4 separate regions of the Homo sapiens genome follow, and regions 1, 2 and 4 are each reported to be linked to region 3. Evidence: microRNA targets listed by miRTarBase, many of them from high-throughput screens and not tested one by one. Region 3 holds a microRNA gene; each other region holds the end of a gene's coding sequence. Distances are between the middles of the regions.

Region 1 (3,121 bases), not on the chromosome of region 3:
GAGGTTTGCAGGTATCTGTTGCCTGCAGAGATTGAACAAGAAGGAAAACTGCCAGTGAATGAATACCCACCCATATAAGGCACGGGGACATTTGATCATCTTCACGTTTCAACCTTGCAGATTATCCAGAAGGCTCATCATCTCTTGCTGTGGAAACGGAAACATAGCAGTTTTCACATTTCCTGCATCTCTCAGACAGGTCAGTATTCTGAGGGAGACACATACAGTGGCACCTGGACTGCTAAGAAGGCGGCTTGGGAGAAGAACTAGAAAAGAAATAAGTTCTTATCCTGGGTGAAAAAGATTTTAAATTCTTCACTCTTGTAATGCATGCATAAGCAGAAGTTCTATACATAATTTCCCTTGGCAGTGTGCTGAAAAAAAAGATGCCCTTATTCCCTGCAAACTCACACTTATGTCACTTGTGCTGAAAAAAACTCCGGGGATCCAGACACCCAAACATTCCGTTAAGGTTATTTACTCTCATACTGTGAATTATAAGCCTCCTCCTGTTTCATTCCAGGTCTCTGAAATGGTACAGATTACAAATAGCTTTCTTTTGCCTGACTCCATTATGTCAGTTAATAACCTAGTCTTCCCCACTAAGGGCAAAAAAGCATCCTTCCTACACTGTAACCCTCCTAAAATGCTATGAGTTTGTTAAGTAGTGGCAGACAACTTTACACATGGGATTCTCTTTGGCCTGGTGAAAAGCTCGACGACCTTCTTTTTGCAACACTCACAGGTATAAACCCAGTGTAATTAAATATTAAAAGAATGTTAGTAATAGAAATACCATAGAGCTTATAGCTCTGATCGGATGAAACTTCTAATCCTATTCTCATGAAAAAAGCTAGCAATTATTCAGAAGCTTACAATCTGTTCGTGGGTTCCCAGGTCTTCAGTTCTTTCCCTTACAGAAATTCTGCTGTGTACAAGTGTACATATTGTATAAAACTTTGTATATGCCAGCCACTTTGGTGTGTACTTGATATATATGATCTTATTTAATCCTCACATCAACTGTAAGATGAATGTTACTATTCCCATTTTACTTATGAGAAAACTGATATGCAGAGAGGTTAAATCACTTATCCAAGTCTGCATATGTAGTAAGTGGCCAACCTAGGGTTGTAACTCAGGTCTATCTGACCTCAAAGCATGCTATTTCCACCATGGCACTACATTTCAAAATCTGAGTTATTTGTGATGTGTCTTTATTTATTATCAAAGATTAAAAAAGGAGAGAACCAAGTCTGTTTCCTTATCCAAAGCCCTGATGAAATGTTTGATGTTTAGGTAAGACAACTTATATGATAGTAATATCTAGATTTGGGTTATCTGTGGTGCTAATCTGTCTATTTTATTTTAGTATTTTCCTAGGGGAAACACTACTACTTTGGCATGGTAACAGATGTTAAAGGGAAGAAAAATTATCTGGTAAATAAATTTATAAAACCCTATATAAGCAAAATTAGAAAGTTGGCTTTAGTGTAGGAATTCTCAGGGGTTTTACTACACTATTGAGTTTTGTGGCTCACCAAAAGGAGGTTGTAGTGGTCCCTTAAATTTTATTTAACTGTTGGATCCTTTCTTTTTTGTGCCTATCATGGAACCTAGTATTTCGTGCAATACTTATCAGGACCATTAATATGCTAAGGAACTTTGAAATGCATTTTTTATATACTTCCCTAGATAAGCAAAATTGCCTTCAAGCAATGCCTTATGCCTTTTACAGGGCACTCTGTCCAAATATATTAATAAAGTGATTCATTTTGTGGAAATCACAAACTCATATATACATATATATATATTTTTTTTTTGAGATGGAGTCTCACTCTGTTGCCCAGGTTGGAGTGCAGTGGAGTGATCTCGGCTCACTGCAACCTCCACCTCCCAGGTTCAAGTGATTCTTCTGCCTCAGAACCCAAGTAGCTGGGATTACAGGTGTGTGCCACCACGCCCGGCTGCTTTTTGTATTTTTGGTAGAGATGGGGTTTCTCCCTGTTGGCCAGGCTGGTGTCTAACTCCTGACCTCAAGTGATCTGCCCACCTCGGCCTCCCAAAGTGTTGGGATTAGCCACCGTGCCGGGCCTCATATTCTGATAATAATAGAAAAGTACTTGGGAACACAGGAGGGAAGAGTGGGAGAAACCTTTTAAAACTTATTAAGATATGAAGAATTGTTTAAACTGTATGTAGATAATTACTACAGTGATATTTGTAAAAAGCTCCAAACTGAAAACAACCTGAATGTCTATCAGTAGAAGAATGCATTAATACATTATATATGTCCAAGTAATTAGATATTTAATATATATTTCCCTTCATTTTCTTTTGAAGTTTTTTAAATAAAAAAGGATGAAAGAAAACATGAATCCCTTGTGTTTAAAATGTAGAATCAATGCTAATTTTTTCATTTTGCCTCTAAATTTTGTATATAAAAAATTATTGCCATAATTTTTACCCCAAAAATGTACTTATTCTAGATTATATTTTCTTCAAAATGAAAAGACAAACTTGAAAAATATTTGCAAACTATACAACACACAAAATTTAATATGCTTAATTTACAAAGCTCTTGCAAATCAGTAAACAAAAGAAAAACACAACAGTTAGAAAATGGGCAAAGCAACAAAAGAAAGCAATGAGGAAAGAACTCTCTATTCAATTAATGGTGCTGGGATAACTGGCTAGCCATATGCAGAAGACTGAAACTGGACCCTTACTTTTCTCCATATGCAAACATTAACTCAAGATGGATTAAAGACTTAAATGTAAGACTTCAAACTATAAAAATCCTAGAAGCAACCCTAGGAAATACCCTTCTCAACATTGGCCTTGGCAAAGAATTTTTGGCCAAGTCCCCAAAAGCAATTGCAACAGAAACAAAAATTGACAAGTGGGATCTAATTAAACTAAAGAGCTTCTGCACAGCAAAAGAAATTATCAGTAGCAAAAACAATCTACAGAATGGAAGAAAATATTTGCAAACAATGCATCTGACAAAAGTTTAATATCCAGAATCTATAGGGAACTTAACAAGCAAAAAAAAAAAAACAACCCCATTAAAAATGGGCAAAGGACATGATGAACAGACGTTTCTCAAATGAAGACATAC
Region 2 (3,111 bases), not on the chromosome of region 3:
GGAATACACATGCAATTATATAGATTACATAAAAACGACCTCAGTATCCACTTGTCTTAGCTTTTCTAAACCAGACAAAAGTTGGGATTAAATAGAATTTCTCTTTATGCATGTATAAACACACAAAGTGGATACATCTGCATTTTTTCTGTGTCATAAAAGTAACATTCGTACAATACTTTTTGGAATAGTAACTTTAAAATACGACCCTTTTAAAACTGCAGTATCAAATTATTTGCTTCTTCAAAACATAGCCATCACAAATTAACAAAACCTCCCAAGATAACATACAAACACAAAAAAGAAAAAGGAAAGATTAAAAACCGATTCAATACGGCAGAATTAACTCATCGTGCTTTCTGATATGGAGGCAGCTTCCTGGGCCCGGCATCCTCTCCACTCCTTCCCCTCCATCTGTGTGTTTACCCCTCAGAAGCCAGAGCCTCCTGAGATGCTAACACGACTCCCAGATATAATCCCAGTCTCCTCTTTCTTATTACACTGTTTGTTTATTTCCCTCCAGTAATCCACTGAACCAGTCACTGAGAGGTTAATGAAAAAACAACTTTATTCACAGAGGCTGAGAGTTTGGGATAGCAAAATATCCAGTGACAGCCCTTTCGCTACATTTTCAGTGAATCACAGTGAGCCTGGATCTCAGCAATGGCTCCTCCTGGAAGTTCTTCCAATCAAGGCTGGCCTGAAGTTTCCCAGAGTCTTCCCACTGGCCTGGGTAGAACCCAGTCGTGGAAGCCTGGTTCAGCATGGATAGGAGAATGAATTTTCCAAAAGTCACCTCTATGCCTGTGAATTATCCAATTACTCTGCCGGCCTGAAATGTCCTTTCCAACACATTGACCAACAGGCCCTCTGGATTCAAAGTTTGTCATCATTTTTAGACAAGTCCTGGAAACTATTTTAAAAGCGATCTTAAAGACCTCCCTCCCAACCTATTTCCAATAGTGCGTGACTACTTGTGTCTTTATCACATGACATAAAATAAAAGTGACTTAGAGGTTCAGAAAATTGCATTTCAGGGCCTCGAAGATTACCCAGCTAGAGATGGCATAGAGGTCGGTTGCATTTCCCCGGAAGCTGCAAGCTGAACTTGGTTGTGAACATCTCAATGTTCTTAATTAGATTTTCGTTGCAGACCTCTTCTCCCCTCCCCAGACTGCCAGTCACCTCTTTAAGGTTTTGATTTAGTATCAGCCTCCAGGCCTGCCTGGCAGGGCTGGGAGGGAAGAGCGGGCGGCTGCAGGGGGTGCGGGGGCCAGGAGTGTCTGGGAGATTCCTGCCATCAAACCTCAGGTCCTCTGGGGCCCAGAGAGGCCCCTTCCAGCGGACACCAGCACGTCCCCTTATTCTTCCCCCGCATTCATCCCTCTCTCTCTCTGCATCTGCTTTTGGTTGTTTCACCCAACTTTTTAAATTAAATGTAGTCTTTCATTATCTGTTTCTGAAAAATATAGCGACCACCAAGCCTGGATCTTGAAAAAACATGGAAATCAAAACTCTGACATTGTCCAAGGCATATCCCCTTCCCCTCACACCCTTCCTCATGGTATCCCTTGAAATATTTTGATCCCTTAAAAACAAAAGCAAAAGGATAGGACGTCTGCTGTTGTGGCTTACATAGCTGCATGTGTATTGGCTAATGAGCTATCGTAATGCAAGAAGATGTTATATAGAGTGCACTTTCTTAATAAAAATTGTTAATACAAGCGTTTTCAAAGGTCAATGCTTAGAGTCAAGTATTTATGCAAAGAATGAAACATGTTCTTTTTACTACCCAGAAAGAAATTAAGAGAAAAAGTCTCTGTTTAAAATAAAAGTGTTATTGCTCTGGGTGGTTATCAGCTTCTATAGCTGAACATTGGTCATAAATCCTCATCGGGCCCTACATCTCTCAGAAAACCTGAAAACCCGGGGTCACCCCCGGCACCTCCACAACTTCAAGTCAGGAACAAACCCAGCTGTGACCACCCACCACCCAGATGGGCTCAAAACCAAGGCCTGAGCCACACGGCAACAGCGAAGCAGGCGACGGTCATACGGGGGTCCCCGGTCGAAAGGACCTCAACTGCACCTGTAAGGCCTGCCTTGGGTGGTCTGCGGGCCCTTGCATGCCCGGGACTCGCAGGACCTGCGGTGGGCGGCTGAAGACCACACTCCATTAGACAGGTCAAACGTCAAGGAATCTCCCGCGGTGGAGGTCCCTGCAGGGCCCACGTGCGGTGCCCACGACCCCGCGGGGATCTTTTAAGTCTCCGTAGCTGCTCCCAGTTGCTGGGAAAAGTTTGCTTCGGAGAAGGCAGGCGAGCGCGCCCACCTGCGCGCAATGGTTGGTAACACTTCCCTGAACCCACAGGCCGACCCAGGCAAAGATCATTTTAAAATCCTCCGCCGGTGGGAGCTGTGGCCTTTCGCTCAGCGGAGGCTCAGGCTGGGCCGGGAGAAGAACCGTGCCATTGTTTGCTTTACTGGAAGTGGAGTACCGTGTCGGGAACCTGCAGGGGGAAATAAGAGAGGAAGGGGATCCCGAGCTGGTAAAAGCCGCCCTGGACATGCGGGTCGAGCATCAGGGAAGCGTTGAAAGGCGGACGGAGGCTGGAGGAGGCGGCCAGGAGCGAGGCACCCAGACGGCCGCCGGGCCCAGGCTTGGCACCCCCTAGGAGTTCGTCCCCTGAAGGCGGCTTCTGGCCCTGCTTTCCCGCCAGGATGCTGTCTATGCTGAAGCTCTTGGACTTGTCGGAGCTCTTCGGAGAGCTGCGGGAGGCGGGGCGCAGAGGGGACCCCGGGCCGTCCCCTGTGCGCGCTGCCTGGCCGACCGCCACGGCCGCTGCGCCCTGGGCAGCGTCACCAGCGTCCTCGTTCGGGGACGCGGTCCCCGGCCAGTGGAGGGGCGCCGGCGGAGAGGGGCCGTCCAGGAGGGGCGAGGGGCCCGCGGGCGCTGCCTGCAGGCGGGAGATTGCGGGGCCCGAGCCCCCTGCCCCGCTCCCCGCCTCCGGCTGCGCCTCCGCGCTGCGCTGGTGCGTCTCGGCGCGGGGCCTCTTGGCCTCCGGGGCCCCGGGGCCCGGCTTGGGCTTCCTCTTCCGGCGCCGGTAGTTG
Region 3 (3,137 bases):
CCATCTCAGCCTCCTAAGTAGCTAAGACTACAGGCTCACTACACCACACCCAGCTAATTTTTTTGTAGGGACAGGTATCTCGCTATGTTGCTCAGGTTGGTCTCCATCTCCTGGGCTCAAAAGATCCTCCCGCCTCAGCCTCCCAAAATACTGAATTACAGGCCTGAGCCGCAGCACCCGGCCATGCCGGGTGCACCTTCCTAGGCCGTCCGCAGACCCAGGTCAGGGGCGAAGGCGCGCTCGCCCATCCCTGGTCGTCACTGCTTGGCTTGCGGGGGGTGGGAGATAGGGGTGCGTACCTGTAGGCCTGGGGGCACCCGGGGCGGGGGGGTGGTCGCCGAACTCTGTGCGATCACTGGAGGAAGGGACTGGGGGTCATTTGAGGGATGAGGAAATGGAGAGGGGGCGCCGCAGCCGGTTTTGAGGCCCAAGGGGCAGCCCCCACGTGGCTGCGCGGACTCCCTCCGGAAGTGCCCGAGTTCAGATGCTGTGTGACCGCGCACGCGGGGCGAGCGGCGCCCTCTCTGAACCTCCTGCCTCTCCCCTGTCTAGTGGGGCCCCAGTGCACTTGTAAAGTGGAGAGACCTGACGACCCCCCACCCCCAAGCGCTCCACTCACGCTGTTGTGATTCCTAAACCATCGTGCCCGGAACTCAGTGAAGCTCCCAGAACGTATTACATTGTATTAAAATGGCTTGTTTATCTCCACGTTGCATCAATGCCCTCGGGGCCAGGATCCTCCGTTGCCAGACTTCCCGGGAACACTTGGAATGCCTCCTCCACCTCGGACTAGCAGTGGCCTTTGGCCTCAGTCTCCCCAGTTGACAAAGGGGGGTAATCTGCACCTCCAGGATCACTTTGTGAATTACTTAAGGAGCGGGCTTGAGGCCAGCACTCCCCTGCACTGCTACATCTCCATCCCCATAGCAAAGGCTACATTTTATTTACTAGCATTTATATTTGCCTTGTGTTTTTCCCAGATCTAGGTGCAAACAGCACCTGAAAAGCGTTTGTTTATTTCATGAGAGAAAAGGGGTTCCTTACTCTCTCCTCCTCTCCCTCTTCATGCTCTCTGGTTCCCTGCCACCTACCCCACCCCCGACTCCAGGTCCCGGAAAATTTGCCAAGGGTTTGGGGGAACATTCAACCTGTCGGTGAGTTTGGGCAGCTCAGGCAAACCATCGACCGTTGAGTGGACCCTGAGGCCTGGAATTGCCATCCTCCTGCCGGTGACTCTGACCTTCCAGATCTAGGGGGGCCTGGGGAGCCCCCAATCCAGCCTGGGCACGTCCCCTCCCCTAGGCCACAGCCGAGGTCACAATCAACATTCATTGTTGTCGGTGGGTTGTGAGGACTGAGGCCAGACCCACCGGGGGATGAATGTCACTGTGGCTGGGCCAGACACGGCTTAAGGGGAATGGGGACTGGGGACAGGACCCCCCACCGCCACAGTCACTCAGCCTGTTTTTTGCCCTGACCCCAACCACTCCTCTTTGGAGAGGAGAGCTGGTGTCTGGAATCTGGATGGGCTCTGGCTGGATTTGGGACTAAATATTAGAGGGTTGGGGGTAAACAGGCTGGGGCAGGGCAGCTAAAATCCCCTTTTTTTTTTTTTTTTAAGACAGAGTCTCACTCTGTTGCCTAGGCTGGAGTGCAGTGGCCCAATCTCAGCTCACTGCAACCTCTGCCTCCAGGGTTTGAGTGATTCTCTGGCCTCAGCCTCCCAAGTAGCTGGGATTACAGGCATCTGCCACCACAGTGGGCTAATTTTTGTATTTTTAGTAGAGACGAGATTTCACTGTGTTGGCCAGGCTGGTCTCAAACTCCTGACCTCAAGTAATCCTCCCCCCTCGGCCTCCCAAAGTGCTGGGATTACAGGCATGAGCCACTTTGCCTGGCCTAAAACCCCTTTCTGAAATGTGGGTGGTAAGTTCTGCTCCGTGGAGTGCTCCATAGTTTTGTTTTTTAAATTAGAGACAGGATCTCGCTCTTGTCACCCAGGCTGGAGTGCAATGGTGTGACCTTAGCTCACTGCAGCCTCTAATAACTGGAGTCAAGCGTTGATCCTCCCGCCTCAGCCTCCCCAGTAGCCGGAACCACGGGCACGCACCACCACACCTAGCTTATTTCGAAAAAGTGTTTTTGTAGGAACAGGGTCTCAAAACGTTGCCCAGGCTGGTCTCCAACTCCTAGGTTCAAGCAATCCTCCTCGGCCTCTCAAAATGAGCCACAGTGCCTGGCCAATAAAAGTTTCTTAAATGAATGGATGGGTGGATGAGCTGTGTAAGCGGCACAGCGTCTCTCCTCTGTGTCCAAGTCCTGAGCACACCCTCCCCTCCTGGGACTGAGCTGAGATCTCATCTCGGGGAGGACACTGAAGACCTGTAGGTACTAGGGGTCCCCTCCTAACAGCCCAACTTGCTATCCCCCACCTCCCAACTCCAGAGGGTTCTTTCTCACCCCTCTGCAGCCCCCGCCAGGAAAGGGCTCCCTCCCCAGCACCTAGCCTCAGGGGGCCCCAGTAACTAGAAGAAGGAGGCAGATGTGGTGCTTTTTGTTGTTGTTGTTTTGAGACAGAGTCTTACTCTGTTTCCCAGGCTGGAGTGCAGTGGCTTGATCTTGGCTCACCGCAACCTCTGCCTCCTGGGTTCAAGCAATTCTTCTGCCTCAGCCTCCTGAGTAGCTGGGATCACAGGCACCCGCCACCATGCCCAGCTAATTTTGTGTGTGTGTGTGTGTGTGTGTGTATTTTTAGTAGAGACAGGGTTTCACCATGTTAGCCAGGCTGGTCTCGAACTCTTGACCTCAGGTGATCCGCCTGTCTTGGCCTCCCAAACTGTTGGGATGACAGGCATGAGCCACCACTCCCTGGCCTGGTGCATGTCTTTATAAATAACTGGATGGGCAGGTGGCTTCACACCTCAGTTTGCTCATCCATTCAATGGGGGTTCCACTAAGACAACCGATGTGAAAACTCTTGGAGGGAGACCAGAGCTGGGGGCCGGGGGGCATGATCCTTCCCCCCTACCCCCGCAACCAGCCCATGAGCCTGGGACTACCACACTCCTTTCAGAGACAGCTGGAGCATCAGCAACCTCCCGCCTGGACACACACACACACAAAGAACCCAGGGGCAC
Region 4 (3,137 bases), 4.3 Mb from region 3:
GGGAGACCATGTCTCAAAAAAAAAAAAAAAAAAAAAACTGGGATAGGCCAAAATCTAGGCCTCTTGTGCCAGTTAGCCAAGTTGTGAATGTAAAGTTCTTGAAGGAAACTAAAAGTGCTACTCCAGTGAACACACACATAATAAGAAAGGAAAACAGCCTCACCACTAACACGGAATAAGTTTTAGTGGTCTGGATAGAAGATCAGACCAGCCACAACATTCCCTTAAGCCAAAACCTAATCCAGAGCAAGGCCCTAACTCTAATTCTATGAAGGCTGAGAGGTGAGTTAGCTGCAGAAGAAATGCTGGAAGCTGGCAAAGATCAGTTCGTGAGGTTTAACAAGTCATTTCCATAACATAAAAGTACAAAGTGAAGTAGCAATTGCTGATGTGGAATCTGCAGCAAGCATTTCCAGAATATCTAGATAAATGGCAGAGGTAGCTCTACTAGAGTTTTAACAGAGACAAAACAGCCTTACTTCAGGAGATGCCATTTAGGACTTTCACAGCTCTAGGTAAGCTAATATCTGACTTCAAAGATTCAAAGGACGGGCTGACTCTTTACTTTGTAGAGACAGCGTCACGCTCTGTTGTGCTGGCTGGTCTTGAACTCTTGACCTCAAGTGATCCTCCAACCTCAGCCTCCCAAAGCACTGGAATTACAGGTGTAAGCCACTTTTCCCAGCCTGGGCTGGCTTTCTTGTTAGAGGTCAATGCAGTTGGTGACTTTAAATGAATGCTAATATTCAATTACCATTCCAAAAATCCAAGAGCCAGTTAAGAATTATGCTACATCTACTCTTCCTGTGGTATCTATTTACATCTATTTACAGCATGGTTTACTGAATATTTTAAGCCCACTGTAAAACATACTGTTCAGAGATTCCTTTCAAAATATTACCACTGATAATGAACCTACTAACCAAGAGCTCTTATGGAGGTATAAACAAGATTGGCGTTTTCATGTCTGCTAACCGCAGCCCATGGATTCTGGAATAATTCTGACTTTCAAGTCTTATTATTTAAGAAATACATTTCATAAGGCTATAGCTGCCACTAATAATGCTTCTTCTGAGGGATCTGGATAAATTAAGTTGCAGACCTTGCAGAAAGGATTCTCCATTCTAGATGCCATTAACAACATTTATGATTCATGGAAGGAGGTCAAAATATCAACATTAAGGCAGGTGTGGTGGTGTGTGCCTGGAGTCTTGGCTACTCAGGAGGCATAGGAAGGAGGATCACTTGAGGCCAGGAGTTCAAGGCTACAGTGTGCTCTCATCGTGCTGGTGAATACCCACTTGTACTCCAGCATGAACAACACAGCGAGACCTTGTCTCTAAAAAAAATTTTTTTAATTAAAAAAATAAAAACCAACATTAACCAGAGTTTGGAAGAAGTTGATTCCAACCTTCATAGGTGACTCTGAGGGGTTCAAGTCTTCAGTGGAAAAAGTAACTGTGGATGTGATGGAAAAAAGAGAACTAGAATTAGAAGTGGAGCCTGAAGATGTGACAGAATTGTTTCAATCTCGTGAAAAAACTTGAACAGATGAGAGGCTGCTTTGTATAGATAAGCAAAGAAAGTGGTTTCCTGAAATGAAATCTACTCCTGAAGATGCTGTGAACATTGTTGAAAAGACAACAGACTTAGAATATTACATCAACTTAGTTGATCAAGCAGTGGCGAAGTTTGAGAGGATTAAGTCCAATTCTAAAAGAAGTTCCACTATGCGTAAAATGTTATCAAACAGCGTCGAATGCTAAAGAGAAGTTTTTCATGTAATGAAGAGTCAATCAATGCAGCAATCTTCACTGCTGTCTTATTTTAAGAAACTGCCACAGCCACCCTGATCAACAGCCATCAACACTGAGGCAAGACCTACCACAAGCAAAAAGATTACAACTCACCAAAGTCTCACATGATCATTAGCACTTTTTGGCAATAAAGTATTTTAAACTAAGGTACTTTACTTAGACATAACACAACTGCACACAAGAGACTACCATATGATGTAAACCTAACTTATATGCACTGGGAAACCAAAACATTTGTATGATTCATGTTATTGTGATATTCACTTTATAGTGGTAGTCTGGAACAAAACTCACAATATCTACAGGGCATGCCTGTATCTTGTATCAATAGGGTTTCTCTTCTCCATTGCAACATCTTATATACTTAGAAAGGCCTAAGGAAATAATGAGGGCTTTCTGTGTTTTCTACATTGTATGGCCCCATGGTGAGTTCTCAAATGTTGGATTGTGACCACAATCCAATCCCTTGAGAAAAGAATGTGTATTAACAACGACTTACAAAAAAAAAAAAAAAAAAAAAAAAAAAAAAAAAAGGCCAGGAGCAGTGGCTCACTCCTATAATCCCAGCACTTTGGGAGGCCAAGGCGGGTGGATCACCTGAGGTCAGGAGCTCGAGACCAGCCTGGCCAACATGGTGAAACCCCATCTCTACTAAAAATACAAAAATTAGCTGGGTGTGGTTGACGGCACCTGTAATCCAAGCTACTTGAAGGCTGAGGCAGAATCGCCTGAACCCAGGAGACAAAGGTTGCAGTGAGCTGGGATCATGCCATTGCACTCCAGCCTGTGTGATGACAACAGCAAAACTCTGTCTCAAATAAAATAAAATAAAATAAAATAAAATAAAATAAAATAAAATAAAATAATAAAAAAAGATTCCATTGGCTCCCTAACATTCCTAAAATTTATAGGGGACACATAGAGTATGAGTTCTTTCATGTCTTCGAAGTGAATGGGGATAACTGAAGGCCTCCTCACATTCTTTGTACCAATAAAATTTCTCTTCAGTGTGAATTCAAATGTGGTAATTATGGTATGAGAAATTCCTAAAAGATTTCCACATTCCTTACATTCAGAGTTTTTCTTCAGTGTGTTTTTAAATGTTTAGTAAGTAAATAAAATCTATTGTAGGCTTTCCCACATTCGTTACATATATAGGGTTTCTCTCCAGTGTGAATTCTAACATGTTTCTGTAGATGTGAAGAAGCACGGAAGGTTTTCCCACATTCCTTACATATATACGGTTTCTCTCCAGTGTGAGTTCTTATATGTTCAATGAGTTGTGAAGATGTAGCAAAGGCTTTCCCACAGTCCTTACAT

The links. Region 3 holds the annotated microRNA hsa-miR-181c-5p (AACAUUCAACCUGUCGGUGAGU, at 1,139-1,160, shown strand). A microRNA usually pairs through its seed, bases 2 to 8, with sites in the 3' UTR of a target mRNA and lowers its output. Matches are read on the target gene's strand: a 7mer-m8 pairs with bases 2 to 8, a 7mer-A1 pairs with bases 2 to 7 and ends in A, and an 8mer does both.
Region 1: the mRNA of ZDHHC15 is a reported target of hsa-miR-181c-5p. The part of its 3' UTR that is shown has no 7-base or 8-base seed match.
Region 2: the mRNA of FOXL1 is a reported target of hsa-miR-181c-5p. The part of its 3' UTR that is shown has no 7-base or 8-base seed match.
Region 4: miRTarBase lists ZNF121 as a target of hsa-miR-181c-5p. Seed matches in the 3' UTR shown: 8mer at 2,885-2,892.

Annotation. Positions count from the first base shown.
Region 1 is chrX:75,376,198-75,379,318 of GRCh38, reverse strand. ZDHHC15 (zDHHC palmitoyltransferase 15) reads left to right here. Exons shown (of 12, transcript NM_144969.3): 11 at 121-199. The coding sequence ends at 167. Among named protein-coding and RNA genes, the nearest start is that of UPRT, 100 kb to the right of the region's middle.
Region 2 is chr16:86,579,131-86,582,241 of GRCh38, reverse strand. FOXL1 (forkhead box L1) reads right to left here. Exons shown (of 1, transcript NM_005250.3): 1 at 1-3,111. The coding sequence ends at 2,481. Among named protein-coding and RNA genes, the nearest start is that of FOXL1, 2.1 kb to the right of the region's middle. RefSeq lists an enhancer at 2,212-2,833.
Region 3 is chr19:13,873,587-13,876,723 of GRCh38, forward strand. It overlaps MIR181C (microRNA 181c), which reads left to right and starts at 1,113; the gene lies at 1,113-1,222. It overlaps MIR181D (microRNA 181d), which reads left to right and starts at 1,289; the gene lies at 1,289-1,425. It also overlaps a transcript of NANOS3 not described here.
Region 4 is chr19:9,563,038-9,566,174 of GRCh38, forward strand. It overlaps ZNF121 (zinc finger protein 121), which reads right to left. Exons shown (of 4, transcript NM_001008727.5): 4 at 1-3,137. The coding sequence ends at 2,903. Among named protein-coding and RNA genes, the nearest start is that of ZNF121, 20 kb to the right of the region's middle.